Homo sapiens: one gene and its partners. The protein of the gene in region 3 interacts with the protein of the main gene of each other region in a biochemical or structural test. Each region holds a gene or a part of one and is shown on either strand. Other genes may lie near its edges.

Evidence for each region.
Region 1: the proteins of FABP3 (region 3) and ITGA1 interact in a biophysical measurement, tested with the Homo sapiens proteins (one study listed by IntAct).
Region 2: the proteins of FABP3 (region 3) and ITGA2 interact in a biophysical measurement, tested with the Homo sapiens proteins (one study listed by IntAct).

What each region holds. Positions count from the first base shown.
Region 1 is NC_000005.10:52,858,938-52,869,468, reverse strand, and holds part of ITGA1 (integrin alpha-1 precursor), read right to left. Parts: intron 8,023-10,531; coding exon 7,910-8,022; intron 4,707-7,909; coding exon 4,618-4,706; intron 4,499-4,617; coding exon 4,387-4,498; intron 3,780-4,386; coding exon 3,652-3,779; intron 1-3,651. UniProt on the Homo sapiens protein: Integrin alpha-1/beta-1 is a receptor for laminin and collagen. It recognizes the proline-hydroxylated sequence G-F-P-G-E-R in collagen. Involved in anchorage-dependent, negative regulation of EGF-stimulated cell growth.
Region 2 is NC_000005.10:52,983,496-52,994,752, reverse strand, and holds the start of ITGA2 (integrin alpha-2 precursor), read right to left. Parts: upstream 5,402-11,257; 5' UTR 5,285-5,401; coding exon 5,221-5,284; intron 4,664-5,220; exon of another isoform or gene 4,467-4,663; intron 1-4,466. UniProt on the Homo sapiens protein: Integrin alpha-2/beta-1 is a receptor for laminin, collagen, collagen C-propeptides, fibronectin and E-cadherin. It recognizes the proline-hydroxylated sequence G-F-P-G-E-R in collagen.
Region 3 is NC_000001.11:31,367,992-31,379,051, forward strand, and holds the start of FABP3 (fatty acid-binding protein, heart), read right to left. Parts: upstream 5,086-11,060; 5' UTR 5,024-5,085; coding exon 4,951-5,023; intron 1,600-4,950; coding exon of another isoform or gene 1,567-1,599; coding exon 1,394-1,566; intron 1-1,393. UniProt on the Homo sapiens protein: FABPs are thought to play a role in the intracellular transport of long-chain fatty acids and their acyl-CoA esters.

The DNA of each region.
Region 1 (10,531 bases), on a different chromosome or scaffold from region 3:
TCATATGGGGCCAGGCACAGTGGCTCAAGCCTGTAATCCCAGCACCTTGGGAGGCCGAGGCAGGCGGATCATCTGTGGTCGGGAGTTCAAGACCAGCCTGGCCAACATGGCGAAACCCTATCTCTACTAAAAATACAAAAATTAGTTGGGCATGGTAGCACATGCCTGTAATCCCAGCTACTCAGAAGGCTGAGGCACGAGAATTGCTTGAACCCAGAAGGTGGAGGCTGCAGTGAGCCAAGATCGTACCATTGCACTCCAGCCTGGGTAGCAAGAGTGAAACTCCTTGTCAAAAAAACAAACAAACAGAAAAGAATCATATGGGTTGCTTATATATAATGCAGGCTTATAGCCCCACCCTCAGAGATTCTGATTTTGAAAATCTGGGGTATAGTTCAAGCATCCCAGTGATTTGGAAGCAGAAATTCCATGAGCCATAATTGGAGAAACATGGCATTAGACAGAAGCACCATTAAGGCATCACCCTTGTCTGTCATCTTCCCCACTATTACCCAAGCTATAGCATAGAGCTTGGAACATAGTAAGCCCTTAGTACATACATCTGAATAAATGAATGAATGTATATGGTTAAGCTCCACAATCAATGATGAAAGCAAGATGTGACATAAAAATTCAGAAATATAATCAGCTTCTCTCTTTAAAAATCAGGTTCCCTTGGGTGAAGTCAGAAGATAATGTAAACGACACTGTGCAGGGTGCTTCATTCAGAAATATTCTTCTCTGTGGATTGAGGTCCTGGATCTTGGTAAATGTAACTGAACTCTTCTGCTGCAGGGTAAGTTCATTTTCCTCCCATTCACTGGTAGCATCTGGACCCCAAGGGCCCTCCTGAATTTGTCTGAATAGAGCCATTGTTCCCTCCAGAAAATACATATAACTTCATGTTGCCCACTCTGGCAGGCTAGAATTCCTCTGGTGGACAGGCAGAATAGCTCCTCTTTTAGGACTCTCAACACAGAAATGTAAATTAATTATAGTTCTAACTGAAAAACATCGAAATTGCAGAAGAATAGCTTGAGCATATAAGCAATTGACTGTTATTTATTTCTTTACAAAATGGAGTCACTGGCATAGATCTTCACAGAAGCTGTAATTATTGTTCTAAAAGAGCCGTATGGATTTTCTTTCTAAAGTTGTGGACCAACTTCAGACATGTCACAGCTGCACTAATTTTCACAAATAGCTACAAATAAATTAATTTTTAAGAGTAATATACATAAGTGAATTTAAAGGTAAAATAAAATATTTAGATGGCTGTATAATAAATTGTAAAAAATATTTCAAGCATGTTATTAGCTTTGGAAGGAAAAAGTTAGGTAAGAAGATCAAATGGGATGGACAAAACAAGAAGAAGGAAAGAAAGCACATCATGGGCAAAAGTGGAGAAAGCGGGAACACAAGCCATTTCATTTAAGGTATTAGTCCAGGCAGTGAGTCATTGCCAAGCCTAGCACGGTTTCAGCCAAGAGGCTGCCTGAGGAAGGATGAGGACAGTCATCCTCATGAAATAGAAAAGGATTGAAATCTACTATTCAGGGGCATTAGATGGTACTGGCTCTGAAGCTTCTCTAGAAGTAGAGCCCTCAGAAAGAAAAAAAACAACAGCAAACTGGGCTACAATTAGAGAGCTGTGTGTGTTCTAATCTGCCATCAGCAAGCAGAAAGACCTTAAACAAATCAGTTAGCCTCTCGTGTCTCCTTCATAAATTGAGGTTGGGGGCCAAATGACCTTTAAGATTCTTTCCAGCTTTAATCTTATGACTCTATGCTATCTTATTGGCCAAGGAGAGAAGGGATAGGGGAAGCGAGGAAAGGAGGAAGGAAGAGTGGTCTCAGAAGGGAAAAAAGGAGGTCCATGAGGAACAGGTGCCAGAAGGAAGAGCAAGTCACATCCTGGAGTTGGTCTGTTAAGATGCAGGCTGCCCTGTACCCTGTAGCAAGACGGGATAAAAAGGTCCCCTACCATCCACTAGTAATTTCACTTGAGAAGGTCAATTGCAAATAAGTCACTTCCAGGGAAAATTACATTTTGTGATACGTAAAAGCCCATTTCATTTTTAATGATTTTACACTGATTTCAACAAGTTCTCTATTGTCCAGCAGGATATTTATAACCTTACCCTTCCACTCACTCTCTACAGAGACCTATTCAGCCTTGGAATGCAGCAATACATTTCACTTTGAAGTTTGAGTTCAACTTTGAAATTTTCAACCACCATCCTTTTAGAAAATTATATATACATAGATATCAAAATATTAAGAGAGACATAAATATACACAGACACATGAAGACACATGTATGTATATATATGTGCACATATTATGTTCCAAATTTAATGTAGGTGTGGCAAACATTAACGCAGTCAGTCTGCTTTTTCAGTGCCTCAGAAACTTCTCCCAAAGTAAAGTCCTCAGAAAAAAAAAAAAAAAAGGAAGATCACTGTATTGATTGCAGTACTATAATCTTAAAGTCTCCTATGCTCTCTACAGCCTCCAAACCACACAACAATCTTTTAGGCTCTGATTCTAGGGCTAATTCCTGACCTGAGGCATTGACTTCATTTTGACATTTTATTTGCCTGTTATCCATTATGTCTGCCCTGTATTTTAATATATATGCCCATATGAGTTTAATAAACATTAAATCAGTCAAATGTATTTAATTAAATGTAATTAAATTAAACTCAGTATCTAAAGTGGAAAAGCTGTGTGAGAAGTTCCACTTCATTTAGTGGCAATAAAGGAGATGTGTTTAGAAATAGATATTAATTGGGGGGATAAACAAACAACTATTTGATTTTATGCAGAGATAGCCAGGGGCATTTTCTTTTAACTTAGGGAAAAGAAATTATTAACAGAAAGGACAACAGGCTTTAAGTAGTATCCTCTGGTCAGTTACTAACTTATTTGTATAATATGAGAGGAGAGATTATAATGTGATGGGTTGTTTGGGATGTCAGATTAGTTTTTACAAACTCTGACACCCGGCTCTGACATTACCAAAAGTGGCTATATCCATTTTAAGTAAAAATTAAACTATGAGTTTATAGAACTCTATAGGAGTTATTTTTCAAGTGCATTAAAAATGGCAGCTTTCATAATATTTTCTGTTTAGAAAATAACACAGCCTAGGTTGGGCACAGTGGCTCACGCCTGTAATACCAATGCTTTGAGAGGCAGAGACAGGTGTATCAACCAGAGGCTAGGAGTTTGAGACCAGCCTGGCCAACATGATGAAACCCCATCTCTATTACAAATTTAAAAAATTAGCCAGGTGTGATGGCGCATGCCTGTAATTCCAGCTTCTGGAGAGGCTGAGAAATATGAATTGCTTGAGCCTGGGAGGTGAAGGTTGCAGTGAGCTGAGATTGCACCACTGCACTCCAGCCTGGGCAACAGAGTGAGACTCTGTCTAAAAAAGAAAAAGAAAAAAGAAAAAAGAAAAAAATAGAAAATAACACAGCTTAAAGTAATGTCCTTTTTATCAGAAATAAGAACAGGAAATGGATATAAAATTCATTCTCAACTTTAGTTTTATTGATTAATTTGCTTTCAGAATATTTGGTTTTATTAAAAATTTGTGCATTTTTATCTTTAGAACAACAGAAATCAAAACACAAAGTCACATACCTGTGTCTGTTTAGGACCAATATCCATTCTTTCAAGAAGGTCATTTAAAAAAGCTGTAACACTGTCCCATGGGTAAATACTGTTGGAACCATCCAGCACTATGACTATGTCCAGTTGAGTGCTGCATTCTGCAATAAAAGGAGTCAATTGTCAAATTTGGAATCTATTTTTTTCAGAGGCATATGAAGTGCTTTCATGGCTGAAAGAAGTTCATTTTAAAAGATGAACTGATGTTCTCCAAAGTAGACACATTGTTTTAGCAATAAAAAATAGTTTTCGAAAAAGTAAAGATGATAAAAATATTCATTGCTTTCAATAACAATTGGTGTGGGATAAAATTCATACCTACTGAATTTTAATTAGTATTGTATGAGAGTTATCTTTGCAAATTTTCTCAATATGAATTTTATATAAGTTTTTATAAAACAGTTTTTGAGCATATCTCAAATGAAGTTACTTCTTTCTTCAAAGAGACTCATTCTTTAAATATAAGCAGCATGACAGCTTTATCTATGATGTTTAAAAATGACTTTGTAAAGTTATTTACACTAATATCAATTCCAAAAATAGCAGTCAGATTTTGTTATATACTGGCAAAGCAAACATTTACCTAAATTGGTAATGCTGGTAGCTAAGAAAATACTTTAAGCTTTTTGGTATGTTCCTTTGTATACATACGTCTCATTCATTGCATAGGCTTTTCAAACATGCAAGAACATTGCATAAAATCTGTACCTTGTACAGGGGCAATGGAATTCACGACTTGAAATGTGGGGCTGACGTCAGAACAGATTCCAGTTGTGTAATGCAAATGTCCACATCTATAGGCATATAAGGGCCCACAAGCCTTTAAAAAATTGTTTTAAAATTAGAAATCATTAGACTGAAAATTATATAACAGATCTTACAAAGACTTAAAATGATAGCATATCTGTTGTCAATAAATATCATTCTCTCCATTCTTACCAGAAATCCTCCATTTGGGTTGGTGACTAAAGTTGATCCAAATGTCATGTTCTCCTTTACTTCTGTGACATTGGGAATTGATGTATTAACTAAAAATAGAACAAAATTTTATGAGGGAGGAAAAGTTTCACAAAGTGAAATTTTAAGCATCTCTCATTAAGACATTCTATTTGTTTTGCTCATATCATAGCACATTCTTCTTTTGGTTCAACTAATTAGTCTTCCAAGTCTTCTTAAGGAATATAATGAACAAGCTAAGGCTGAAGAGTTGGCTCATGTCCCAGAAACTATTTCAGATAGTTTTGCTGAACTGTGAAAGAATGCAGAACTAGCAGGGCAATGAGAATGTGGGATTGCTTTTTGCACGTTCTTGCTAATTAAAGCAAAGTTTTTAATCTCATAATACTGTAGATATAATGTAATCTTATAACTTTGTTATAAATGACCAGTGATGAAACACGATTTTTGGCAAGAAAAGGGGAAATGGGTAGAAGATCAGAAAAGAAAACTCAAACACCAGTTTTTTGACCATGACTTCCAAAATCATGAGGACATCCTTTGGGTGACAAAGGAAACTAGAGGAATATTAGAGCAGTGTCCAGAAAGTTTTGATAAAGGAAACACAGTAAAGAGACTGCATTTGACATTCTGAAGGGAATGTTGGGTCCTGAAGCATGAAGCATGCCAGCCTAACAATATTGGCAAGAAGTTTCACTTTCTCACACTAAAAAAGAAAAAAAGACTGGACAGGAAAAACAAGAACTTCTAAATCTGCTTAGTAGAGTGGAATATTAGAAAGAGGCAAAATTCAGGTTGAGAAAGATTTGTCTCACTGTTTGTTCCAGAGGTTGTTTTCATGTTAAGACTGTATGTGGATTTAAAGTGGGGAATGGAAGCAGAGATTCTGGAATGGTCAGTTAGACTTCCTGATCTGCGCAATGGCCTTTGTCCAAGAGTTTAGTCTGGTTTGCTTTGAAAGCACCTAGAGCTGGGCGATTGTATGCATTGATCTTGTATAATCTGGATTAGAGTTTTATATACAAAGCTTGACCCAGAAAAAGCATTCCTGGGACAATTAGGGACTACAGTGGAAACTTCCCTACTGTACTTGATGTGGCTAAAATCTCTAGCCTAATTTTAAAACTATTCCAATTTCCAGTAAGGGAGGAGTAACTCCTAACAAAACAGCTCCTCTGCAAATCACAACTATAAATTCTAGGAAGAATTAAAAAAAATACATGAAACAATCACCTGAAGGCACTAGAAAGGTGGCAGAAAATGGAGGGGAATCCATACTTGGAAGAAGATACTGGCACTAAATGAGTTTTGTGCTTTTGTGTTTTGTTTTGTTTTTGTCCCCCACCCCTAACCCACCCCCAACCTAGGGAAGGCCCTGGTCAGTGGCTAAAACTCAAATAGAACTCCTAGTCTTACTGTACTGAATAAAAAGAGAACAGAGATTGAGGGCAATGACAGCAGCTGCAAAATGAGGAGGAGAGTAGTATATCTTAGAAAAAGAGCCACAAAACAACAGTTCTATAATATGCATATATATTTTATCCAAATAACTAGATGACTTGAATAGTAAATGCGCAGAGTATATTTCAAATAGCCCAGCTGAAATAAAACCTGAATAGAGATTTTAACTACTTGTCATTGCAAGAAAGTCAATGCTTGGAAATTGAGTTGAGCCAAGTAAATTTCCTGCTAATAAAAAAAGTTAAGACTATTCACAGGCATATAACAGAATCTAGAATCTCCACACCTGTAATTCAAAAATATAATCCAGGTTATGATCCAAAATTACAAGACAAGACAGGAAAATGTGATGCAACCTCAAGGAAAGGTAATAAATGGAAAGTGATGTTGAGATATTCCAGATGTTGGAATTATCAGGCAAGGATATTAAAGCAGCTATTATAAGTATGCTTATGCATGTAAAGAAAAAAAGTTCATAAAAACAAACAAATAGAAAATTCAAAAAAAGGAGAACTGAAAAATACAATATGTGAAATAAACTTGTGGGGCTATAAATAATTTCCATAGTATGTAATATTGTATAGAACATTGACAGGGTTCTAATTTCTAGATAATTTTAGTAGGAATTTTCCGGTCACATTCCTACTATTTATGTCAAATACATCTATTTCAATATAAATTTATCTTGTGTGATTCTATTTTTAAAATTAAATTTATCTATTACAATTCCTCTGATTCTATTTCCTCTTGAAAACCAGGCACTAAGTTAAATTTTGTGGAGGGAATGTGGTGGGCAGGTTTATTTGGAGAAGTTCTTTCACATTACCACTGAATTAGAAAGAATTCTGAAAAATGCAGAGAGTTAAAAGTTATAAAATTAGTACGGTATTCTAATTTATGTATGCTCCTTGATGACTTTCTAAAGCAAATTAAGGACAGAGGGAATCAAAATGGCATTCTATGTCAATCTGGAAGATAAATGATTATAGAAAAATGATTATAGATTATAAATGATTATATGAAAAATGATTATAGATTACTTCTTGAACTCAGCGCCTTAGACCGCTCGACCATTCTGACACACAGATTACTTCTAATATTTTCTTGAGTTGATTAAAATCTGTTTTTTTTCTTTTCTTTTTTTTTTTTTTTTTGAGATGGAGTTTTGCTCTTGTTCCTCAGGCTGGAGTGCAATGGCGTGATGTTGCCTTAACACAACCTCTGCCTCCCAGGTTCAAGCAGGTCTCCTGCCTCAGCCTCCTAAGTAGCTGGGATTACAGGCATGTACCACTATGCCCAGCTTAATTTTGTATTTTTAGTAGAGGCAGGGTTTCTCCATGTTGGTCAGGCTGGTCTCGAACTCCCGACCTCAGGTGATCCGCCTGCCTCGGCCTCCCAAAGTGCTGGGATTACAGGTGTGAGACACTGCGCCCAGCCCAAAATCTGTTTTCAGTGAGAATACTGGGCATAATTTAAGACCTGATTTTTTTTTTTTTTTTTTTTGAGACAGGGTCTCACTCTGTCACCCAGGCTGGAGTGCAGTGGCGCAATTACCATTCACTGCAGTCTCAAACTCCTGAGCTCAAGCGATCCTCACACTTCATCCTCTTGAGTAGCTGGGACTACAGTAGTGCACCACCCCATCCAGCTATTTTTGTATATTTTGTAGAGATGAGGTTTCGTCAGGTTGCCCAGGCTGGTCTCAAACTCCTGGGCTCAAACGATATGCCTGTCTTGACCTCTTAAAGTGTGGGGATTACAGGCGTGACTCACCGCACCTGGCCTAAAACCAGATTTTTTTAATTTTACATACCTGGTAGATCCAACTTTACACAAGGTAATGATTCACCTCTCCCAACTGGACACTTATAGACATCTCCAGTTCTGTTTTTGGGTTGGCCAACTAACGGAGAACCAATAAGCACCCTGGAAGTTAAATAAATCAGTAAACATTTTTGAACATTGAGAAACAGTTTATATGAGTTGTTTTATGACTGATTTTAAGATAATTGACAATAACACTCATAATCAGATAATAATCATGCTATTAGTAATTTAATGTTATGTAAACTAAGCAGAGAGCCTACCTCTTGCATATTGATGTGGATTAAAAAGTATATATACACACACACACATACATATACAATATACATATATAGCATATACATGTGTGTATATACATATATATGTGTGTATATACATGTATATGTGTGTGTATATGTAGGATAGATATTTCAGAGATTTTGCTTTATTATTTTGTTTATATTACTTTATCATATTTTTTATTGGGGTACTGAAATAATCAATAATTATTGGCTAAGTCTGCTACTGTATTAACTTATAAAACACATGTGGAAGTATAAGTGACTTTTTCCTATGATGAACTGCTAATTTTATAGAGAAGTCAGGAAATATAAACATTGGAACATCATAAGATTTAATATTAGCATGTGCTAGTTTATAAGTGCTTAGAAAATAAGGATAGTTTATGAGATCCAGGTTAAAATCACTTACTTTCCTTTTAGACAGAATTATAAAACCATTCTAACAGTAATTAATGGAAAAAACATATAATCACAACTGATTTTAGTTCCAACAAGTCATTTAAGTCTCCCATGATATCTTCAGGAATCGGATGAACTAAAGTAAATAGTAAGATACTTGGGTGGATCCACAGTTGCTGATTTATTGCTGGCTGAGTAGCCATATCCAAAAACTCTGGCTGCTAGCAATCAAAGGACTTAATTACATAGTATGAGATTTTGTACTTGGGATTGTGTTAGATTACAACTTTATTTTTTTATTTTATTTTTTTATTTTTATTTTTTGAGACGGAGTCTCGCTCTGTTGCCAGACTGGAGTGCAGTGGCATGACCTTGGCCCACTGCAACCTCCGCCTCCTGGGTCCAAGCGATTCTCCTGCCTCAGCCTCCCAAGTAGCTGGGACTACAGGTGCACGCCACCACGCCCGACTAATTTTTGTATTTTTAGTAAAGACAGGGTTTCACCATGTTGGCCAGGATAGTCTCGGTCTCTTGACCACGTGATCCGCCCACCTTGGCCTCCCAAAGTGCTGGGATTACAGGCATGAGCCACCACGCCCAGCCAGATGACAACTTTATTAATGACTTTAGTCAAGATATAAAAAGTATAAATATAGTTATCAATCAGCACCATAAGACAGAGCAAGAAAAAAATACTTATCAAGTATATCAATATACATACTTAGGAATTCAGATGAATCTCAACATTCTGGAACAATAAACATAAATAAACTAAAGTTTACTTAGAACCTACATAAATAACTTCGCTCAGCTGCATACTATTATTTATATCAGTGCAGGATGTGGGAGCCCTCACTTAATGGGAGTTCATGTGAAAAAGGCATGGGGGATTTAGATGATAGCACATAAACATGAGCAACAGCGTATTTTAGTGCCAAAAATGCTAATGTGACTTTAGTCTGCAGTGCTGGAAATAGATGCCCTGGTCAAGCAGTGATAGTCCCCCTGTGTTCTGTGCTGGTCAGGCCATGTCTGAAATATCTAAATTAAGAGGGACATATGCACAATGGAATGTATTTAGGAGACTATGACTCAGATAGTTAGGAGTCTGGTAAATTTGTCAGACAAAAGATGCTGGGAAAGTTGGGGATGTTCGGCATGGAGAAAGAATGTCTGCAGGAGAACTGAGAAGTTGCATTGAAGTACAAATTGATTAGGCACACATTTTGAAAATTTAAATATTTGAAAGTCTGTCATATTGAAAAGAAATGGGATTTATTTTGTGTAGGCCCTATAGGCATGCTAGTATTAATGAAAATAAATTTTATAAAACAATTGTAAATATTAAGCTATTGAGACTCTAAAACATGGTTTTAATATAATGCCTTTGGAAAGCAATTTCTGATTTGTATAAAGAACTACAAAAATGCTCAAACCCTTTAATACATAATTTTTACTTCTGGGAATCTATCCTAAATAAAATGACCTAAAGTAAGAGGGAAAAGCTTAATGCACAAAGATAATGCTCATAGTGTTATATATAATTATGAAAGAGTAAAAGAAATATGGTAAATAAAAACTAATTATTTCAGGATCATTCTATAGCATATTGTACATTCATTGTATGGTAGGATGAAAAATTATTTATGATCGAACTCAAAGTGAAAATTTATCTAATTTAGTGAAAATCTGTGCCCTAATTTAACATGAAAGACACCAAATTACTATGTTCATTATACTACCACTGATAATGGCAGCTAGGCTTTATTGAATTTATACCATGTGCTAGGCCCTGTTCTAAGTGCTTTCTGTGTATTAAATAATTTAATCTTCTCCATGAAATATAGCATGAACTTTGGTGCCAGCCTATATGAGTTCAAATTATGGCTTTACCATTCACTTAGCTATATGGTTAGGACAAGTCAATTACT
Region 2 (11,257 bases), on a different chromosome or scaffold from region 3:
AACCAAGTTTTAAATTATATGAAAATTTTAAAGACACCAAGACATACTATAGTCTTAAATTCCAATAATTCAGAAGTTCAAAGACAACATCAAAGTCCATTTCTTTCCATAAGGCTAACTCCAATATACTAGCTTTATCCTTAAGCTAGTTGACATCGCAGTTGCAAGATGGCTGTAGTTGTTCCAAATTTCACATATAAACTTGACAATATTTTCTTTAACAAATATCTCTCTTAGGAATGAAAATTCTTTTCCCATAAGTCACCCAGCAGATCTCATTGGTCAACCTTGCATTACATGCCCATGGCTAAATCAGACACAGCCCAGATGCCTGGGACCAGCCTAATCACCCTTCAGCATCACCTCAATTTTTTAGCTATGCAGAAGAGGATGGTAACTCAATAAATGGACTTCTGCTAGAAAGGAAGATGACAAGGGGCTGAAATTGGTTAAGTATGCTTCAGGGCTGAGACAATTTCCTTTCCCCATGTTTGGATTTTTTTCCAAATAAACTCCAACCTCTCTCAGCCATGTTTTAAGTTTTCTCTGATTCCACCTTGAGCCTAACACACAGCCTTACATAAAGTAGATACCTTATAAGAATATTATCAAGTATTAGTTTTATGAAATTCACTGTAGCCAGATCAATAAAGCCTCTATGGATCACCTGAAGGGGCATAGGAATCACTGTCATACACAGAGTCTATTGTCTCATGATTTGCAGTGCTAGGATTCTCCCCTGTAGGGAGCCACTCTTCTGTATGTTCTGCTGGTAAATGATTGGTCACTGAACAACTGGAAAAAAAGAACTCCACCAACCTTCCATTTCTTTCACTTGCCAATCAGAGCGGTGATCTTTCATGGTTTCTCTTGTTTTATGCTGTGCTAAATCTTTTACTAATATCCCAAGCTGAGCAGTGTTGGTAGTCAAGACTTATGGCTTTAGTGGTAGAATTTATGTGATGCCTGGACACTTTTGGCCCCAAATATTTTCCCCATTCTTCCTGAAATTCTTGACTTTATACACATTGACTGAACATGTGTCTTTATTTTGCTGAATGTCTAAAATTACATCATGAGAAGCTCATCTCTTTACATTAACAAGCTTCTACCTTTTAATATCTCCAGGGCTGTCAGCACATGAAGACAGGGAGTAGTCATCATCCACTTCGGAAGGAATTTAACTGACACAGCCGCTCACAGCCACTAACTCTTGATGTTGAAATCTACCTGTCTTGGTGATCATCCCACAAGGTGGTAAGGGGTAGGTAACACTGGAATTTTAATCTTAGGAAAGTGGGGAGGCAGTGATGATATTTAAGCAATCACTTCCAAACCAGACCATACATCAGAAATATATGAGCCATTGTAAATACTGAATCCTAAACCCCAGTCCATAAATTTAAGTCAAACAGTGGCTCAGGACCTAGTATTAAGAGAGCAAAGCTTAGCTGAGGTTGGGCAGGTATAACTGCTAAGCCATAGGGGAGCAAAGTTACTTTATCAGAGGGCGGCCTAAGTCCCATTAAGGGGCTGAGGATGAGACCAGAGAGGTGGTTTAGGGTGGGACCCAGCAAAGGTAGGTTACCTCAAGCTTTCCTTTTTGTTGCAAAAGTAAAAGTTCTCTACTTTATAATTTTGCTTGGGATTGACCCTTCTAGCATTGGATAATGGTCAGTTGCAAAGAGATGAGTGAAAAGGGGTGAAAGCAACAATGCAATGAAGGCAAAGGGAGTATTTGGAAAATATTTTCACACTAAATATGGTATGATCAGGTGTAGTCATAACAAAGAATGGTGTATATAGATGGCTTTAGAGTGTGTACATGTGTGGGCATGTGTGTGGTGTGTGTGTGTGAATGTGTATTTGTGTTCAGGAAAGCATACAGTAAAGAAAAGATTGGATAGGTAGAATGTACCTTTTTATGACATGCCAAGAAATTGGCACTTTACCCTACCTGAGATGGGGAGCCACTAACATTTGAAACAAAGCAGTAATTGGAAACATATAAGTGTCTTAGAAAGATATCATTAGTGAAAATGAAGAGAATGGGTTGGAGAGATAAGAAAAGAAAATCCAGTTTAAAAGTTACATACAGACATAAGATGAGGGACTGACTGGGTGGCAGGAGTTGCATGGATGGGAGGAGAGCCAAGAGAATTTGGAGAGTGGCTGTGAGGTTGAAAACATGGGGACAAATTCCTGGCTTTCATGTTTGTGTGATAATAATACTGCCATTAAACAATGGTAGCCAATAGAGGAGAAAATTCTGGAGGACACGTATTAAATTCAGTTTTGGAAATGTTGAATCTGGCTTACTTACAGACTGTCTAGCTGGAGAAATTTGGTGGCTGATGGAAATACTGATCTGGAACTCAGAAGGGGAGGCTGGCTGGAGATAGGGACCTGTGCAGGGAATGGGCCCAGAGACAATCTGCAGAATGAAGAGGAGGATTCAGGATGAAACTCTGCAAACACCAACAAGGAAAGAGCCTGTGAAGGAGATGACGGGAGAGCAGCGAGGAAAGGAGGAGAAAAACAGGAAGAGAACAGAAGCCAGAAGTACAGGATGTTTCAGGAGGAAATTAAATATCAAAAGAAATATTTTTTTTACAATAAGAAAAATTAGAATATTTACAGACTGAGGGGAAGTTACATTAGGGAGAGAATTTGAAGACGTGCACTGAAGAGGGATGAGTGCTGGGGCAGGGTTTCAGGGATAGTAAGAAAAGATGTGGTCTAGAACCTGGGTGGAAGGACTATCCTTGACCTGTGAACATACTGGAGAAAATACGTGATGGCCTTCATTTCAAAATTACATTTGCCTTCTGCTAATGGCCTATATTTAGTTTATAGATTATCTAGGCCTCTTATGTTCTCTCTTTTTCATCCTCAGACTGCCCATTTACCATTTTCATGGTATTAAGCACTTAGAAATGAGCACTGAAAGGTGATAAATATAGGACTAAACTATGAGTACATTTTCTTCTTAAGCACCTGTGAAAAGGTTTCTGGAAAGCAAATTTGAATGTAAGTGTTAAAATAAGATTTGAAGGTGATATGTTTTTAAAGTGGTTTGCATGTATGCTAGAGATGATACAAGATGTCTAAACACACATGTGTTTTATACATATTAACAGGTATATATATGTATATACAATTGTATATACATAACACGGCATATTGTATACTCAAGGAACAGGTTTTCTCTTAATTTAAGATCATCATAATGAAGCTCTGTCACATACATAGCTTTTAAATTTGAATTTTTGTATGTGATATGATGCAATTGTACATACTATAATTTTATAACAGTTATGTGTGTGTGTGTGTGTAATGATAGTGAATGAGAAATTTTATACAGATAGGGTAATGCCATACAAAATTTTAGATACTACTGAGCTAGAGATTTCACTTATTCATGTTAACCTGGGATACTCATGGTACCAAAAAACGATGCTGCTTCTCCAGGAACCTCAAGTGATATCACAAATGAGAGAGCTTTCTTATGAGGATCTTAAATTAAGAGAAAACCTGTTCCTTGAGTATACAAATGGCTGGAGTAGGAGGAGGGAATAAATGCACAAAACTTTTGCAGATGTTATTTTCGATCATCTCTGCTTGCTTGCCCTGAGGTGTCCTTATTAACTCCAGGTTAAGTCTCTGTTCCTGACTTCATGCCTTGCAGCGTTACATTCCATTAAAGAATTTCTCACTGCTCTTTACATAACAAGCCTCAACATTTCAAAGATAAGAAAATGATGTTATGTTTCCACAGCTTATTTTAATACTGGGTAATTACAGAGAGATGAAAAGCTTGGGTTTATATTTCTATTAGCTCTAGTTGTATTCCAGAGACTCATTTTCAATGTCAAGTACAACTTTACCTGAAATCCGTAGATTAGGGTTGGTGGCCCCTCAAAACAACTCATCTGGTTCCCGGAGAAAGTATCTGAAGCACCCAATACAGGTGAGACAGAAAACCTAAGATGCCCATTCTCTGCTCGGGCTGGGGACAGTGGTGCTATTTCTCTCTTATCTCTGACCTGGAGAAAATGCCACCAGGTTGACGTGGACTAGGATTCATTCCTCCACAATAAAGAATAGCAAGTGGCTGAATGTCAGTCTCAAAGGAGGACAGCTTAGGAAATATTTATCTTCTTTGTAAAAAAAAAAAAAAAAAACCACACACACACTTTAAAATCAGAGACAACTTTTTTGTTTTGTTTTGATCGCTGTTCAAACTACATTATACAAACGTGTCTCCTTCTCCCTCCAAATAAACTAAAATTCTTAAATTTGACCACACTCTAGCTCTGCCTAATGGTCAGGGAAAAAGTACTCAGGCGATGGTCCCACAAAAGCTCTCCACCCCAGCCTTATTTCCTCCTCTTAGTGTAAAAGAACTCAGGAGGTGGGCGGGCCCCACTGCCACAGCACTACAGTTAGAGCGGCTGCTCCGGCTTATTCTCTCATTGCGGCATCTAGGATCCAGAAGTGAAAAGAACTTTTCCTAGCCTAAGTTTACATTCGTCGAATAGACAATGTTACAACAATAAGAGGAAGGCAGAAGGGAAGGAAGAATTCCCCTCTGCCAAGTATTTAAGTGGCGCTTGGTTTATTCCAAGTCCCCCCGGGAAGAAACACAGCGCTTCGTCCTCAAGTAAGAAATAGAGGCATTATTCACATCCTTGGGTTGAAAAATAAGCATTTTGGGGCTCGCAGGCTTCTGCAAAGCCAGCAAGCACCGCGCTGGGGAGCTGCAGGCCGCCATCAGCAATGGATTCCGGATTTCCCTGGTCTCTGGCAGGCGCGGCACCTGTCTGAGCCAGGGGAAGTTGGGCTGCAGGACTCGCGGTCTCCAGGACACCCGCGGATCCCCACACTGTCCATGCTTGAGTGCGTGCGTGTCTGTCTGTGTGTGTGTGTGTGTGTGTGCGTGTGTGTACCTAAAACAAAGCACTCACTGAGATGACTTTGGAGGGTGCTTAACAGACAGGGCGAGACGCGCCTAATGGGGACGCAAGGCCTGGGATAGCAGGAAGGGAACGAAGAAGTATCTCTTTCCAAGCAGGTCCTGGTGGCTGGGAGCCCGAGTCCACGTGGAATCCGAGGGAACACACGGAGCTCGCTCCCTAGTTCCGCCCAATCCCTCCAGCGAGCCCCAGGAAGCCGCGCGGGTCCCTCCTGCAGCCGATGCAGAGCGAAATCCCCGCTTACCTTGACTGAGCGCTAACACCAGCAGCAGCGGCAGCGGCGCGGCCCCTGTCCGTTCTGGCCCCATCCTGGGTCTGACCGGGGGACCGTAGTTGCGCTGGGTTTGCAGAGGTTTGCAGAGGATACCCTTGGCCGAGGGATACGAGAACCTGCACACTCTAGAAGCTGTCCAGAGGGCTTCTCTCCCCCGCCCGGTGAGAGCAGGGAAAAGTTTCTGGGCAGCTCCTGCAGCGCCGAGGGCCCGCCCCAGCCCGCCCCTCCTGATTCCGCAAACACCGGATCTGCTCCGGCCGCGCCCCGCCCCACCCCGGCCCTGCGGCCCCGCGGGCTGCACCTCGGCTCGTCCACACGCGGGGCACCGCACCTTGGCTCCCGTACAGCGGCCCAGCCCCGGCAGCCTGGAGGCGGTGGGGATGGGGATGGCGCCCTGGCAGGCTTTCCTGCCCTGGACGGGACGGGTGGGCATATCCGACGGGCGAGCGCCCGCCCTGGCACCACTCCGCCCCCGCAGCCTGTCGCCAGCACGCAGGAGATGCCCCAGTCCCCGGGAGAACGTGGCCCCTCCGCAGCCCTTGGCAGCGCCCGGCTCCTGGCAGCGGGTGCCGAGGGCACTAGCCCTAAACCACAGTGCCTAGGGGCTGCGCGGTGCGTCCCTTTCTCTGTTTTTCCTAAGTGGGTGGAGAAAGGGACAAAAATAAGCGCAGAATGACCAGGTTAGAAACTAACTCATCAGGAAAGAAGATCTGCTCACAAGTTATGATTATCCAAGGTGATATTTAAGCAATACCTGCTGCAAGAGCTGTGTGTGTGTGTGTGTGTGTGACAGAGAGACAGAGAGAGAGAAATCATCATTACTTCCTCTCCTCCGAGATAATTAAGAGCTGATTTAATGACTGAGTTTAGGAGATTAACTTCAAGGCCAGAGAAAAGGCTGAGAGCCCATACATGCACTTGTGACTCTCCCTGTCTACATTACACCATGACATAGACTGTGACCATTTTCTTCCATTATTTCAGTCTCACATCTGGAAAGAGAACATTCTATATCCGAGATTTTTAGTTAAAAACCTAAGAAATAGGATATTAATTTTTCTTGTCTGAATCTTATGTTTTATCCAAAAGTTTGGCCACAAATTTCCAGCACATTGCTGAAACCAGAATTCTTCCAGTGACTACTTTTGTGAAGGAACGAACTGTTTTCATAAATCAAGCTTAAGGAGTTATGAGTCTAATAATCATCATTATTGTCATCATTCCAGATCTTCATGGAATGCTACTATGAGCTGAATGGGATGCCTGAGATACTGCCTCTAGGAAGCAAAGTGGCTCAAGGTGGGAAGGACTTAATAATTCATAAAAATCAAGCTCTTCTCTTTACTATAGATAGGGCTGATGTGTCACATTGTTAAAGTATTAAATTGGTATGCATCAGATGTTGCTGCTGATGGCTTATGACTAATACCCTTTGAACCCAAATTATATAGTCCCAGGCTCTTTCCTGTTTTCTTATCAGTCACTTACTGGCTGCACTTACTCACCTTGACAAACACCTGAAGGCATTTTTTTCTGAATTGTCTGGGGTACTCACCTGCTTACTAAAACTCCGGCTATCACCTGAGAGCTCTTAGGTGGCTGCTCACTAACCGGTGACACGATTTTGACGCTCCTTACAGACTTTTTGAAGGAAGTCAGCCAGGTTTCAGGGAGATGAATATCTGTCTGTTTCCTTCTGACTCACTGAAATGTGAGTAAGTGTTTGGAACAGACCTGTGTTTGGGAGGCAGGACACTTCCTTTAATGTGAGACAGGAATTTGTGTTTTATCTCTGGGGGTGGGGGGAAATAACATGCATCCTTCTTGGTTTTTGTTCTCAGAACTGGACAAATTAACATTACACTGTCATGAAGTGCAGAATAAGTCAGGAGCTACGATTTTCCAGAGCCAGGCAAAACTTTTAGAAACAAAGAACAAACTCCTGCCTCACATTAATTTTAAGAGGATAAAGTGTTCCTGAGACAAAGTAGTTTGAGAACCCCTTCCAGGGTGCTCTCCTGCCTAGTTGCAGTTGTGAGGGACACCACATTCAGAGCAGGAAATATGGAAGGTTAAGCTGGGGCTTCTCAAACTCTTTGGTCTCAAGAGCCCTTTACTCAGTAAGTCCTTTAACAAAAATCCTATTATGTGTGAACATAAATAATGTACATTTTATGAAAAATAACTATATTTCTCCAAATGAAAGAATCCGGGAGAAGAGTGGCATTGCTTTACATTTTTGCTAATATTTTAAATATCTGGCTTAAAAACAGACATTTGGATTCTCAGATCTGCTTCTGCATCCAATCTGTTACGGCATGTAGTTTTGGTGAAATTATATTGATTAATCTGGTGTTACACAGATATGGACTTAGAAAAACAGGAGATAATTCTGGATAATCCCCTGATACTACACCAAAACTCAACAAGTGGTAGTTTCTTAAAGTTGCAATGTGGAATCTGAAACCATATCAATGGTTTTTCCTATTCCGTGGCATTAAAATTCATTGATCTGCTGGCCTCTCCGTGTCCCTCTCCCTTTCTCTTCCTGTGAGTGCCCAGTGATGAAGAATACAATGACCACCAGTCCCCATCCTTGTTCTTGCACCATGAGGGCAAATGTCAACACAGTGAAAAACGCAGTAACGTCTCAGTATTGTTATGAAAATAGTTTTGACTTCACTGGCCACTTGAAAGGATCTTGAGAGACCCAGAGACCCTACTCCAAAAAGCACTCAGGGGTGAAGTGAGGCCTTCCCCTCTTTTTCTTTTCCTTAGCTCAAGACAGAGTTTTGTTGGGGAACACGGCTCAGATAAGTTTCCCCAGTGTTTCCTTCTGATCTGTTGTATCGTCATGCCCTGCCCTCCTTTGTTTATCCCGTTTTCATATAGACAATCACCCAAACCAGAAACCTCTGCTTTCTTCCCCAGGTGCACCACCAGCCCCCTGCTAACATCCCATTCCAATTCTGTCTTTACACCCTACTAGGGTTTTCTGTGCCATCTCCTATTTTCTGTTCCACTGCTAATCTCTCTTTGGTTCAAACCCTTTTGATCTTTCACCATGGTGACAAACTCCCATATAATCTCTCTGTGCTTCCTTCTCTCCTGTTCCAGTTCATCTTTTATACCTGTTGTCACAGTTATCCAAAAATGCAGGACTGATCTGCTGAAAATCATTAGATGTCTTCAGGACATTCAAAGTACCCTAGGGTTTAAGGTCACGATTTGGCTCCAACTCACCTCTGTGGGCTCCGTGGCTATCTTTCCCTCTTGCACACTATGTTTAGGCCAAATTCACGAGTTCACTGGCCTGCCTTTCCCATTCTTCATTGTCAATTCCTTATTTTTCTACTTAGAATAGCTTTCTTTTTTTCTTCCATTGTTTCAAATTCTACTTCAAGGCTCCAGTCAAATTCTATATTATTAGCCCAGCCTTTCCCATTTTCTTCACTGAGAACTAATCATTCTTCTTTCTTGGCTCTGGTTTCCTCTAGCTTTTTTTTTTTGTTTTTGTTTTTTCCCCCAAATAAACTTTCTTTTGTATGTATTACAGAGTAATATATTATTGAGTTATATGTGTATATTCTACCTTCTCATTTAAATGCTGGGTCTCTGAAATCTTATACATTTTTGTTATAAGAGTCTAGTCCTATACCTAGTAAATAAATTTCTAATAAATATTAATAGTTATTATAATACATTGAAATGAGTTTCCTAACAATTCCACATTCTTCTCCCTAGACCTGAAAAGGGTGGTAAATATGAACTTCTAGGTAAGTCCTAGTAATTTTGAAGTGAAGTAACCAGTGGCTTCTCAAATGTTACTCAGTGAATCCATGGGATGAGTGAGTAAAGCTTAGAATCCATTGAGCTTGACTCACACACAAGTCTCTAAGCACTGGCTGGGGTGCATAATGGCCAAAATAAAAGAGACACTCCTAACTTAAACACAAACAAAACAAATAAAATAATTCTAGATTTCCTAGCTTCCTGGACCCATCAATACACTGATGAATCATATTCATATTTCGATTCTAGCACAACTACGGTTGACTGGCCTTACTTGTTTTCATGCTTGTGGCAGACATGCAAAGCTATTTGCCAGCTCTGCCAATAGGGCTTTCTCAGAGTCTTCCATGATCCCCTTCTAGAAGTCACTGAGTCACATAATCCTGCCTCCTTGTCGCTAAGCCAAACACCTGACCAAGCTCGATCAATCTCCTAGGGATTTACATTCATGGTATACAGATTCTAGAATCTTTGCTGATCACATGAAATGGAAATTTGTGTTCACTTTGTACAACCATTTTCTTTCTTTTTTCCCCCCCGCCTTTTTTTTTTTTTTTTTTTTTTTGAGATGGGGCTTTGTGCTGCCTAGGCTAGAGTGCAGTGGTATTCATAGTTCGTTTCAGCCTCAAACTCCTGGGCTCAAGTGATCCTGCTACCTCAGCCTCCCGAGTAGCTGGGCAGGCATGCACCACCACACCTGTCTAATTTTTTAATTTTTCTTTTTATAGAGATGGGGTCTCACTGTGTTGCCAAGGCTGGTCTGGAACTCTTGGCCTCAAGCAATCCTCCTGCCCCACCTTCCCAAAGTGTTGGAATTATGCCCAGCCCATTCATTTTCTTCAATGAGTGTAGAAAAAGCCAATCTGCACCATTTATCAAAAACAGAGACAGATATGAGAGACCAAGAAACTGAGGTGTGCATGCATGAGACAGACAGACAGAGAAAGAGAGAGACACGGAGAGAGATTGTTCTAGGTCTTTTAATTTTGTTTGCCATTGTGTGAGATCTGACTGTTCTTCCTGGGTTTACATCCATGAAATATCTGTGTATCATTCTATTACTTTCAGTGGCAAAACCCACAATTATTTTTGGACCAACCTAATAATAGTTTCTCTTTTTCTCTGAAGCTAATTTGAGCAGGTTTCTAGTCCTTGTACTAGACTACGTTTAAGACATATCTGTCTCTCTTCTGGGAAATCTTAAGGACTTCCAAGTTAACATGTCTCATTAACTTCTTTCACTCACAGTTCCTAAAATAGAGCCTGACACAGAGTTGATGCTCAATGAATGTTTGTTCCCCAAATGAATAAACATACTTCTTCAACTAGTCACTAATGTCTTGATTTGTTAAGATGAACCCGAAAAAAAAAGAATTTTATCTCTTAGGACATGGAAAAGTTCAATGAAGGGGAAACATTGTTCATCCATACTTTAGACTTTTTTAAAGAAATGTGTCATATGAAGGATTAAGGCTGCTTATGGCTATCTGCTACTCTACTCTGTCTGGAAAACTTGCATGTTCCAGTTAGAGGGCAGTTATTTTTCAGGGGTGAAAAATAAATCATATTTAAACTAGCCCAAGTCAAAGAATAGTTAATTGCAAGGATATGAAGAACTTTCTGAGAACCCAAAGACAGGAATTATAGCCCTTGGGTACTTAAAGTGGAGACTGGGAAGATAAGAACCTAATTAACTCTCTGCAACTTTTAGGGAATTCATGACTTGTTGGCTTTGCTTCTCTGTGTGTACCTGCTCTATTGTCTTCTCTGTAGGCTGACTTCCTCCTTAATTACTCATCATTTCCATTGCCCTGTAACTTCAACTTGCAAGTGCCTTTAGTTTTCCATGGCTTGTCTCCAGTTAGGATTCTATAGACTTAATTTTAACTCAGTAAAGAAAGGGTCTTCTTCAGTTTGATACACTGTATGACCACACCAGATGATTTTTCTTTTTTTAAAATTTCCTGCCAAGAACACGAACTTTTGTTCTTTAGGTAGTTATTATTCTTTTCTGAAGCCAAGACCTCTCCTTTTCAGCCATTTTGCAATTTAACTTTTAGTGCATCTTGAGTGACATGAACTCCTATTTTGTTTGAAGTAATTTTGTTGGTACCATTTAGATTGGAGCCTGTCCTTTTAGATGGAAACACATTTCAAATGTGTAACATCAAAAAGTCAAACAGAGCCAATTTTACCATTAGCATCTATTTGACTG
Region 3 (11,060 bases):
CTGCCCTGTATTCCTACACCTTTTCTTGGTCCACATCATGTGACCTCTTTAGCCAACAAGAGGGCAGCAACCACAAAGTCCTGTGACTGGATGCCCTTGAAGTGGTTCCTCAGCTCTGGGTGCTGCCAGCATACATACATCAGCTGGTTCTCATTTGGCAGCTCTTCCAGCTCTCTTTCCTAGGAGTTTGGGGGCCACAAGGCCAGGCTAAGGGATCCTGATGAGCAAGGTGGTTCAGTAGGAGAATCTGAGAAGGTTCTGTGTATTGTTTAGGTGATAAGGGGTATGAGGCCTGTCTCTTAGTGTGCTCTTTTTTATCCTTACCTTACTCCTTGTTCTCATTCCCCTAGTTTTTTTTGCCTACTCAGAGTAGATATTTTTGCCCTAGGCATTCCACAGGGCTATTGTGTTTAATTGGGGTTCTTGCCCCTTGAGAAAGTAGGCAAGTCCAAGGAGGTATGAGCAGGTGGTGGGGCAGCCACCTTTATCCAAGGTAGACTGCCATCTTTGGGCACCATCCCCAGCTCTGCTGCCAGCCACCTGTGTGATCCTGTTCTTTCTGGGGACAGCTATGAGGAAGAGGAAACAGCTGATGGGGCTGAATGATAGTGTCATGATAGAACACTGCTATAGGGACACCCTATAGAGGTCAAAGCCCTTAAGTTCTCTCGCTCCCATGCCTGGCCTGGAAGGCTGAGGCAAGCTGCCAAGACAGCCACTGCAGGGTGATAGAACCCTGGGAGGAGGGGCTAAGGCTTGGTGGGAAGACACTGCAAACACATTCATGACAAGGTGAATGCCCTATCACGGAACATAGCTCTTCCTGCCTGTCAGCTGGCAACACTGGAAATAGTTTGTCAGGGTCATTGGCCATGTCTGGGAGTTAGAAGTTGAAGCGGCATCTGAGTAGGTGCTTCTAGTTCCTGGCTGCCTTTTTTGCTGCTGGAGGTCACAATGACCTCACTCAGTGGAGGGCCCTGACTTCTGGGCATCATTCCTAAAGCACTTCAGGTCACAGCCATGGCCACATAACTCTGCCATCTATGGAAGGGGAAAGAAACCTAGAGCTACTGCATACCTTGCACAGGGTCACCCAGCTGGAGCTGGAGTAGATACTGAGGTCAGAAGAACATCCTGGCTCTGTGCTGCCCATTCCGAGGCAGACAATAGATGAATCCCAAGAAGGGAGGGAAGAAAACAAGAGGACAGAACTGACATGTATTTAGCATCAGTGGCATTCCAGCACTACACAGGCTTTATGAATCTTGTTTCATTTAAATTCCCCATGATAGTCTGCCCCTCAGGGTGCAATACCAGGGAGCCAAGACTACCAGCCTATTCTCTTTTAGAGTCTCAGCACTCTCCATTCCCCACCCCTGTTTCCCTGACTTACCTTGACCTTCCTGTCATCTGCTGTTGTCTCATCGAACTCCACCCCCAACTTAAAGCTGATCTCTGTGTTCTTGAAGGTGCTGTGTGTTTTTAGGGTGAGAATGTCCCCATTCTTTTCGATGATTGTGGTAGGCTTGGTCATGCTGGCCACCTGCCTGGTAGCAAAACCCACACCTGAGGGTAGGGGGAAGGTTATGAGTATATGAGCTGGGGTAGAGAAGCAGTGTACAAGAAACTCAATGAATAACTCTCAGGCCTGGGTATGGGGAAGTGGAGGACTGTATCTTTCAAAGCCTTTGCATGGGAATTTTAAAATTCAGTCTTGCGCTTAGTTCTGTTTGGTGAACACAGATAACTGATCCCATTAGATGAGAGATACTTAAGGAACAGCAGTGCCATAGCAAGTCAGTGGCAGAGCTGGGATTAGAATAAGCTACTATTGGGCCAAGTGTGGTGGCTCACGCCTGTAATCACACTTTGGGAGGCCAAGGCAGGCGGATCACATGAGGCCAGGAGTTTAAGACCAGCCTGGCCAATATGGTGAAACCCGTCTCTACTAAAAATACAAAAAATTAGCCAGATGTGGTGGTATGTGCCTGTAATCCCAGCTACTCAGGAGGCTGAGGCTGAGAATTGCTTGAACCTAGGAGGTGGAGGTTGCAGTGAGTCGAGATTGTGCCACTGCACTCCAGCCTAGCCAACAGAGTGAGATTCCACCTCAAAAAAAAAAAAAAAGCTACTATTAAGTACTATGAGCTTTTTGTGTAGTAAGAACTGTACATGTTATCTCATTTAGTTCTTCCTGTTCTTCTGAAGACTGTTTCCACGTTACAGATACAAAAACAGAGGTAAAGCCCAGGGTCACAAATCTGAGATTGAAGCCCAGAATTGTCTGAGTCCAGAGCTTGCTTAAGTGCTCAGCTATACTACCTCCCAAGGCTGGAGCATAAGGCTGCCTTCCAGGGCACCTGAAAAGCTCTCAAAGCCTTAGGAATAAGGCTGAGGAAAGAAGAGAAACATAGACTTTCCCTTCCAAAGCCTTAGGCATAGGAGTTTTCCAACTTTGGAAGTTTTTACCCTGAAACTAAGAAGTGTTAGTGCTCTTGTCCCTTATACATGGCAACCCATCATTTTCAAAGCCTGTTATCTATGATCTAGGAGTTAGGTACAAAGGAAGTATTTGTCCTATTGTGCAGATTCAGGAGGAGCCTAAAGCGGTAGCAACAATGAGTTAGACTCAAACCCGTCTCCTGACTCCCAGTCTAAGGCTTTACAGAGACTCTCTTCCTGACCCAAGCATGGCTTCCTTGGGTACTGGGCAAAGTCCTAAGTGTCCTGCAACCAAGTAAAGAACAAAGAACTAATCATGACTGCCCCCTCTCCCCCCAGCAGCTTAACATTGAACTGTCTTCCAAGGCAAAGGTGAGGCAGGAGGCAGCCCAGTGTAGTGAGGTGGTGTGTGTAAAGTCTCCAAATGTACCTGGCTACATAGTGCTTGCTGGAAGCTAGGTACTCTGCACATGCCCTACATGGGTTGTTTTACTTAATGCTTGTAACAGCCTCGAAGCGTAGATTATCCCCAGTTTACAATGAAGAGTGCGAAGTGTCTTGTCGAAATTCAAAGAGAATAAACTACTGACATAGATTTGAACCTCGGCTCCAAAACTGTTGACTATTTTCACTGGGCGATTCTGTCCAGCACATACTCAATCCAGGCCAGCAGTTGTGCCTGTGGTCACTGGTACTAGACGGGACCTCTTTGCCCCTTGAGAGCCCTAGGTCTACAGCAGGAGGGGCAGGGGCTGCCTCTGCTGTTATGCTGTCAGCCCACCCTTGCTTGGCCAGTGAGGAACTTGGCATTGCCCCTTGGTATCAGGATGAGTCAGGCCAATCACACTCCCTTGCACAGAGCAGGACCTTGTCACGGCACTGGGAGCTCTGTTCACTTAGGATCTACCCAGAGGTATGGAGTGTTTGAAAAGGAAACCACTGCGGGATGAGTGAGGGTCTGAACCAAGAGAAACTAAGAATATTGAGCTGACAGAATTTAGGAGACTCAGGGAGATCTGGGTTCTACTTAGAAATGAAGCCAGCACTACTTACTGAGAGCTGAGGAGGGTATTTTCCCAGGCTTTCCATTCCTACGATGAGAATGCTGGCTGCCTTAACATAAGCTGCTGAAAGATAACAGGACTTCAGGGAGACCAGCCCGCTGACCCAACTCGGGGCAGAATAAGGGAACAAGAATGGTAAAGTTGTTGCAGCTCAATTCAAGACTCAGCTCTGGCCCAGCTTTGGAAGGAGGAACTAAATCTGGGCATTCCAACTTCCCAATAGCTGCTGGGCTGTGTTCGTGGGGGCTGGGGGCTGCTCCTCTAAGAATGACTGCCTGCCTAGAATTACTGGGCATAGCGCCCAAGATAGGGTAGAGGCCGTTGAGAGCTTTGACCTCTCCATCTAAGCCCAAAGCAGTAGAAGAAGGGCTGAGGTCAATCATTAGCTAAGCAGTTTCTACTTTTCTTCCCACTCGCAGGGCCTGTAGGGTAGTGGGAAGAGCTCTGGGTTACAGATCTAGAAACCTTAGATTTTCATATTGGCTCTGCTGTGGAATTGTTATAATACATTTCTACTCTCCTGGTTTCAGTTTCCCTGTTGAACTAGATGGTATGGGAATCTCCAAGTTCCTCACCTGTGAGATTCTTTGAATCCTGATTCTTCTCCATCCCAACACCACAGCAGTTCTCCACATCCTCCTAAACCAGTGATCCTCCCTCCCAGGTCTTGACCTTGCCTTGGGACCCTCTACTGCACATCAGAAGTCCAATGGCTTTCTCTGCCTACCCCTCGCACAGATAGGTGAGCCTTGGGTTGCAGGAAAGGCCCAGCTGATCATGGGCCTCTTGCCCCACCCTACCACGAGGCTCACAGACAGTGATGAAGGCCTGGATACATAGACTGCAGGACAAGGTCAGACTGGCTGGTGAGAAAGGGCATTCTCCAGCAAGAATTCTCTTCCCTAACCAAGCAGAGATGGGGATTGCTGCTTACTGCAGGTTCCTGTCTTACGTCCTTCTCATATCTGATTCACTGATCCACAGTTTTTTCCCCACTAATCTTTTTCCTCCTAGGTATTTCCTACTTGTTTACATCATTGTACACTCCCTGGCTGCCCCATTCCCTTTCTGGGTTCAGTCTCCTCCAATTTCTAAACTACCCATGCCCCTGTTCTTTTTCTCCCCTGGCTACACTCCCTTTCCTGTGATCAGTGTTCTTTATCCAAACCCTCCTCCTACCTCCAAATCACATATCCCTCTTCCTGGAAAGAGCCTCCCACACAGCTGCCTCCTTCCACCACCTCCCTACCGTGGTCTCTAACCAGATTTGGACCACCAAAGCCCCCTCTGAACAGGCCCCACCTGCTCTAGGCCAGGCTGCCATCTCCGCGCTCCCCTATTCCCCAGTCTTAACCAGGAGGGATGCGGCAGGAGTGCTGCGTGGGGCTAGGCACGCCACCAGCCAGTCCCCAAGCCAACATCCTGAGCCCCGCGGCTTGCTCACCGAGTGACTTCATGTAGTCATCGAAATTCTTGCTGTCCACTAGCTTCCAGGTGCCCAGGAAAGCGTCCACCATAGTGATGCTGGGCTAGGCTGAGAGAAGCTACAAGAGAGCAGGCGTGCAAGGGCTCCGACGGCGGCTCCCTGCCCGGGCTGCCGCTTTAAATAGCCCTCGCATCACATGAGGAGACGTGGCCCACGCCCCCGGCTCCCGAAATAGGAAGCCCCAGGCTAGGGCTCACCCAGGAGGGGCTGGTGCGCCCATCCCCCAACCCACCGAGGTGGGTGGGGACCAGCCAGTGGCGCCCTGCTAGCCTGCGTCAGCGCCAGTGCCTGGCCCCCGAGTCCCTACCCCAGGCTGGTAGGACCTTCTCCCTTTCCTGGCCTCTAGGCACTCTGGAATCTGAGAAGGAAGCAGCCAACACCAGCCCGAGAGCTAGGGCGCATGCCATGGTGGATATCTTCCCGTCCCCCAGTCCCTCTTTGAGCTTAGCGTCAGAGCAGAGATGAGACTAGAAAAGCAAAACGCCCTTGGGCTGGTGCCCACGCCGGGGAAAGCTCTGGTTGACTTCTGGCACGGGCATCTGTCCTCGTTTTACAAGTGAGGAGTCCGAGGCTCACAGGGGAACTGACAAGGTCTCAAGAAATAGGAGGGGGTGAATGGAGCTCAGATTGCAAGCTTAGTCTAGCGGGCTTCAGAGCTCGCGCTCTCCCTTCACTCTCACTGCCTGGTGGCGGAGACAGTCACCAGCGGCTCGGTCTGCGGCTGAGCTGACCTTGTCCTCTGCCTGTTTTGAGCAAAAGCCTGACCCTTCGCGCCCCGCCCGCCTCACACGTGCTTGCCCCTCCCTGCGGAATGTCTCCTGCTGGCCCTCCTCCGTCCCCACCCCACCCCACCATCTAGCTCCCCACCCGCCCCTGCAAGTGCTCTGGGCTTTTCCGGTTTCTTCGCACAGCTCCGAGCTTTAGCTCAGGTCGTTCCCAGCTCCCCTCCTGCAGAAATTCTGCCAATTCGGTCAGCTCTTCAAGGCCCATGGCTGCCTTCCCCACCTGCCGCCCTTTCTTTGGCCTGTGCACACTAGCAAGCCGCCTGCACTTTTGGGTAATTTGCTGCCTCCTTTCGAGAGCCTGTTGTGCGGTGGTTTGTCACTGTATAGTTTACTAAGCACTTTCAGTAAAAATAAGACCTGCCTTGTCTTGCTATTTATTGCATGCTGAGGGCTTTGGGTGTATTGTTTCATTGAACTTTTTATTTTATTATTATTTTTTAGAGACAAAGTCTCTCGCTGTGTCTCCCAGGCTGGAGTACTGTGACGCCATCATAGCTCACTGCAGCCTCAAACTCCGGGGCTCAGGGGATCCTCCTACCTTAGCCTCCCCAGCAGCTGGGACTATAGGCACACGCCACCACACCTGGCCTCATTGGACTTTTAAAGCAAAATCCATGAAGTAGGTGTTACTGTATTATTTTCTCTTTTTAAAAAGGTGAACAAGTTGAAGCTCTGAGGAGCTCACTCATTAATTCAGCAGTTAATAAAGCACCTACTTTGTGCCAGGCCCTGCTTTGGAGAGAGACAACAGGGAACAAGACACACATTCACCTCTGGGCAGCCAGACATAAAACTAGCGTGGTGCCTCTAAAGGGAGTCCTGTCCTGTCCTGACCTGAGGGCCCAATGTAGACTTCTCAAAGGAAGTGAGGTATAAATGAATTTCTGAGGGATGGCAGGAGGCCCTGCACACCAAGGAGTAGTGCCGAACTGAATTTCAGCCAGCAGCAGCCTGTCCAGGGTGGGCCTGCAGGAGCCAACACAGGAGCCCAGAGGCCTGCCACGTGCGTAGAGTATGGCAGGCCCTCCTTCCTGGGACTCTGTTTCTCCATGTGCAAACCCTGCCTCCCTTCCCTGGACTGTTCTGAGAACAAGGCCAGGGAGGAAGAGCCCTCTCCCCACCCTAAGATCTTGATTCCTTTGGACGGTCCAGTTGCCAGAAGACTCAGAGGCTCATTTCTGCCAAAGCTATAGGGACAGGCTTCAGGGCTGGGCATGGAGCCTTGGTGATCTCACTGTTGGAACAGGTGCCAGGAGAGGAGGAGGGGGAAAAGATGATTTCTGACTCAAGGTCGCAGCCCTCACACATAGGGCCTCCTCTCAAGGACTGTGTGGCCAGGAACTAGAACTGACTCCTTATGTGGCCCTTGTAATGCAATGATGGAGAGCTGGGGCTGGGCTAATGGCTGCTGGCAGATCTGCGTTCTGATCTGAATTTTGTTGGGTACTAGCTGTGTGGCCTTGGGCAATTCACTTAAGCCATTCTGAGTCTCCATTTTTTTTTTTTTTTTTTTGAGAAGGAGTCTCGTTGCCCAGGCTGAAGTGCAGTGGTGTGATCTTGGCTCACTGCAACCTCCACCTCCTGGGTTCAAGCAATTCTCCTGCCTCAGCCTCCCAAGTAGCTGGGATTACAGGCAACTGCCACCACATCTGGATAATTTTTGTATTTTTAGTAGAGACGGGGTTTCGCCATGTTGGCCAGGCTGGTCTTAAACTCCTGACCTCAGGTGATCTGCCCACCTGGACCTCCTAAAGTTCTGGGATTACAGGCATGAGCCACCACGCCAGCTTCAGTTTCATCTTTAAAATGAAGGGATTTTTTTTTGGAGATGGAGTCTTGCACTCTGTCACCCAGGCTGGAGTGCAATGGTGTTATCTCAGCTCACTGCAACCTCTGCCTCCCAGGTTCAAGTGATTCTCCTGCCTCAGCCTCCCAGGTTCAAGTGATTCTCCTGCCTCAGCCTCCCAAGTAGCTGGGACTATAGGCGCGGGCCACCGCGCCAGGCTAATTTTTATATTTTTAGTAGAGACGGGGTTTCACCATATTGGCCAGGCTGGCCTTGAACTCCTGACCTCAAGTGATCCGCCTGCCTTGGCCTCCCAAAGTGCTGGGATTACAGGCATGAGCCACCACGCCTGGCCTATTTATTTATTTGGAGAGAGTCTCACTCTGTCACTCAGGCTGGAGTGCAGTGGCATGATCTCAGCTCATGGCATTCTTGACCTCCCAGACTCAAGGGATCCTCCCACCTCAGCCTCCTGAGTAGTTAGGACTACAGGCGCATGGCACCACGCCTGGCTAATTTTTTGTGCATTTTTTTGGTAGAGACAGGGTTTTGCCGTGTTGCCCAGGCTGGTGTTGGACTCCTGGCCTCAAGCAATCTGCTTGCCTCGGCTTCCAAAGTGCTGAGACTACAGGTGTGAGCCACGACACCTGGCCCGAGATAATACATTTAAATGCTAAGCATGGTTGACTTACGAAAGTTCACTGCTGCTGCTCCTCCTGCTGCTATTGTTATTGTCTCCAGGGATAGTGCAGACACCTAAGACCTAGTCTGAGCTCTGCCACTACCTACTGAGTTAGTTACCTGAGGCAGATTGCTTTGCTTCTTTAATCCTCAGTTTTATTATTTCTGGGACAGGATTAGAAAGGGCTTCAACTGAAAAAGGGGCTATAGAGGTTTTTCAGAATGGGTTGGGGTGGGGTCACTGCCAGAAAATCCATTTGCTCCCTCTCTTGGGCCTGTCCAAATTGAGCAGCACGGGGCTTTGAGGAGCTCTACTCGACAAACCTCAGACCAACTACCCTCACTGCCCTTCCCTCACCTCGCCATGGTGCTCAGACCTGGGTCACCGAGGTTAACCCATAAGCCACACCCCATCTCCTTTCCTCCTGGTTTACACCCTTCTCCCTTCTAAGTATGTACAGTTCTCTCCTCATCCCTCTGATCTACCTGCATCCTCTTCCTCTGTTATGCTGACTACATTTGGGGAAGAATGTGAGCCCTGTCCCTTTTTGTACTCCTCTGTCTTGCCCTTGGCAGATCCAGATGTGGATATAACATCTGGCAGGCAGCAAGACCAGCGCCTGCCAAGAACAGCATCTCCCCAGCCCTCATCCTATGGTGAGGTCACTGTTCTATGTTTCCACGGCAACCACAGGCTGGGAAGATGGAGAAGAGGAGAGATGAGTAACCAGAAGCCAGCCAATGAGATGAGCTGCAGCACCGGATGATCCATGGGGCCATGGGGAGCGGGGACAAGGGAGGCCTGCTCAGCATGTTCAGCTGTTTCCTGGACCCTCCCTGCCATCTGGATGCCTCCACTAGAGAATGTGCTACTAGCACCAGGAAAGAGCTAGAGGCTGAAGAAGCTGAGTAGAAGCTCTGCTGACCCAAGAACATGGCCCTCCTTTTTTGCCTCTTCAGGGTCTAAGTCTATGGTTGCTGACTACCCCCGCCCCATCCCACCCCTAATATCTGCAACTGGGAACTTTTCCCATTTGCTGGGAATGATGGTGGGGCTCTTTCTGCCTCTGCCTGCCATAGAACCAGCAAGTCTTAGACATCCCTTCTTTTTATGCCCTTGGTCCATGGGGTCTTTGTTACCAGAAAGGGGTCCCAATCCAGACCCCAAGAGAGAGTTCTTGCATCTCACACAAGAAAGAATTCGGGGCAAATCCGCAGAATAAAGTAAAAGCAAGTTTATTAGAGAAGTAAAGAAATGTCTGTTTAGTAAATTATTAACCTGTTCCCTTAACTCTTAACTGTAAACATTTTGTGACTAAGAATGTTTCACCTTGTGGGAATGCATCCCAGCCAGGTCTCAGCTTCATTTTATCCAGCCTCTATTCAAGATGGAGTCACTCTGGTTAGAATGCCTCTGACATCTTCAGATGCAGTGTCTTTGGAAAGAGCCCTGATTCTAAACTCCAGGCCTGCATTTACTAGCTAGAGACCTAGAACAAGCTCCCTTTCCCCCTTCTGAGTCTTGTTTTCTCCCAAATAGAGGAAGGCCATCAACTTCTCAGGGTTGTTAGGACAATTAAAAGAGATAACAAATGGAAAGCCTACCGTGCACTAATATTGAAGGAATAGTAACTCCTTTCTCCTTTCCTCCTTCCAGTTCTTTTCCCCGGGATATTTGAGTAAGCCAAGGCCCTTTGAGACCCTGAATAAGTAGGAAAGGATTCAAGTATATGGCCAACTCCTCTTCATTGAGGTCACAGAGTGGCCTTCAGATCTTGGACATAAGTTTCCTCATATTTCCCTTTCTCTCTCTTTAAATATTCATTCATTCTACCAATCTTAATTGAGCACCTCCTATGGCCAGGCACTGTGCTAGGCTCAGTGAGGATCCAGGGTGAACAGGAGAGCTCCCTGCTCTCACTTAGCTCACAGTGCAGGGGGATTGCAGCTACAGTGGGTGGAGTGTTCTTTCTGCCACTAGGAAATCTGCTTCCTTGTTCCCCAAGAGTTCCAGATACTGTGGGCTGGAGAGAACAAATGATGGCAGAAGGTAGAGGTTTACTCAACACCAATTTGCTTCTAAGAAACTGCTGCCTGTGGCAGAATGCTCCCTGAAATGAGAACAATGACCCTCCCTGCCCTGGGGGACAGGGGGTACCTCAGTGGGGAGGGGCAATCTGCCTTCTCAGAAGCCATCCTCTCCCTGTTGCTGACAGAAGAAAGCCCAGACTGTATAGCCTGGTCTCATCTATTTCCTTGGTCTAATTTGTTGCTGAAATCCTTTTTAAGAAGAGTTTCTGGCGGAGAATAAGGTATAGTATATTGACAAGATCGGGTGCATTCAGGGTGGTATGGTTGTAGACAGGTACAGTATATTGAATGAATGAACAAATGAGTGAGTGAAGGAGAGAATCTATCTACCTCCCTAGTTTTAGGGGCTCTGGAGTGAGACTTGGGTTCCAGTCTTGCCATATGTATACAACAGCTGTGTGACCTCGGGCAAGTCATGATCTCACTGGGTCTCAGTTTCTAAATCTGCAAAGAGCATTATCACTATTCTCACCTAGCCAGCCTCCCAAGGACTCTGAGAAGCTAGGGGAGGACAAATTGAGGAATGCAGCACAAAGGATGTTTCTCCAACTCCTGGCCTCAAGCGATCCTCCTGCCTCAGCCTCTCCAGTAGCTGGGACAGGCGTACCTGGTTTATGTTTTTTCTCTTCCAGCCTCCTTCCTTGGCTGCCTGTGGTCCTTAGCACAAGACCCACTTTCTTTGACATGACCCCATAGCCACAGCCTAAGCATCACAGCCCACACAC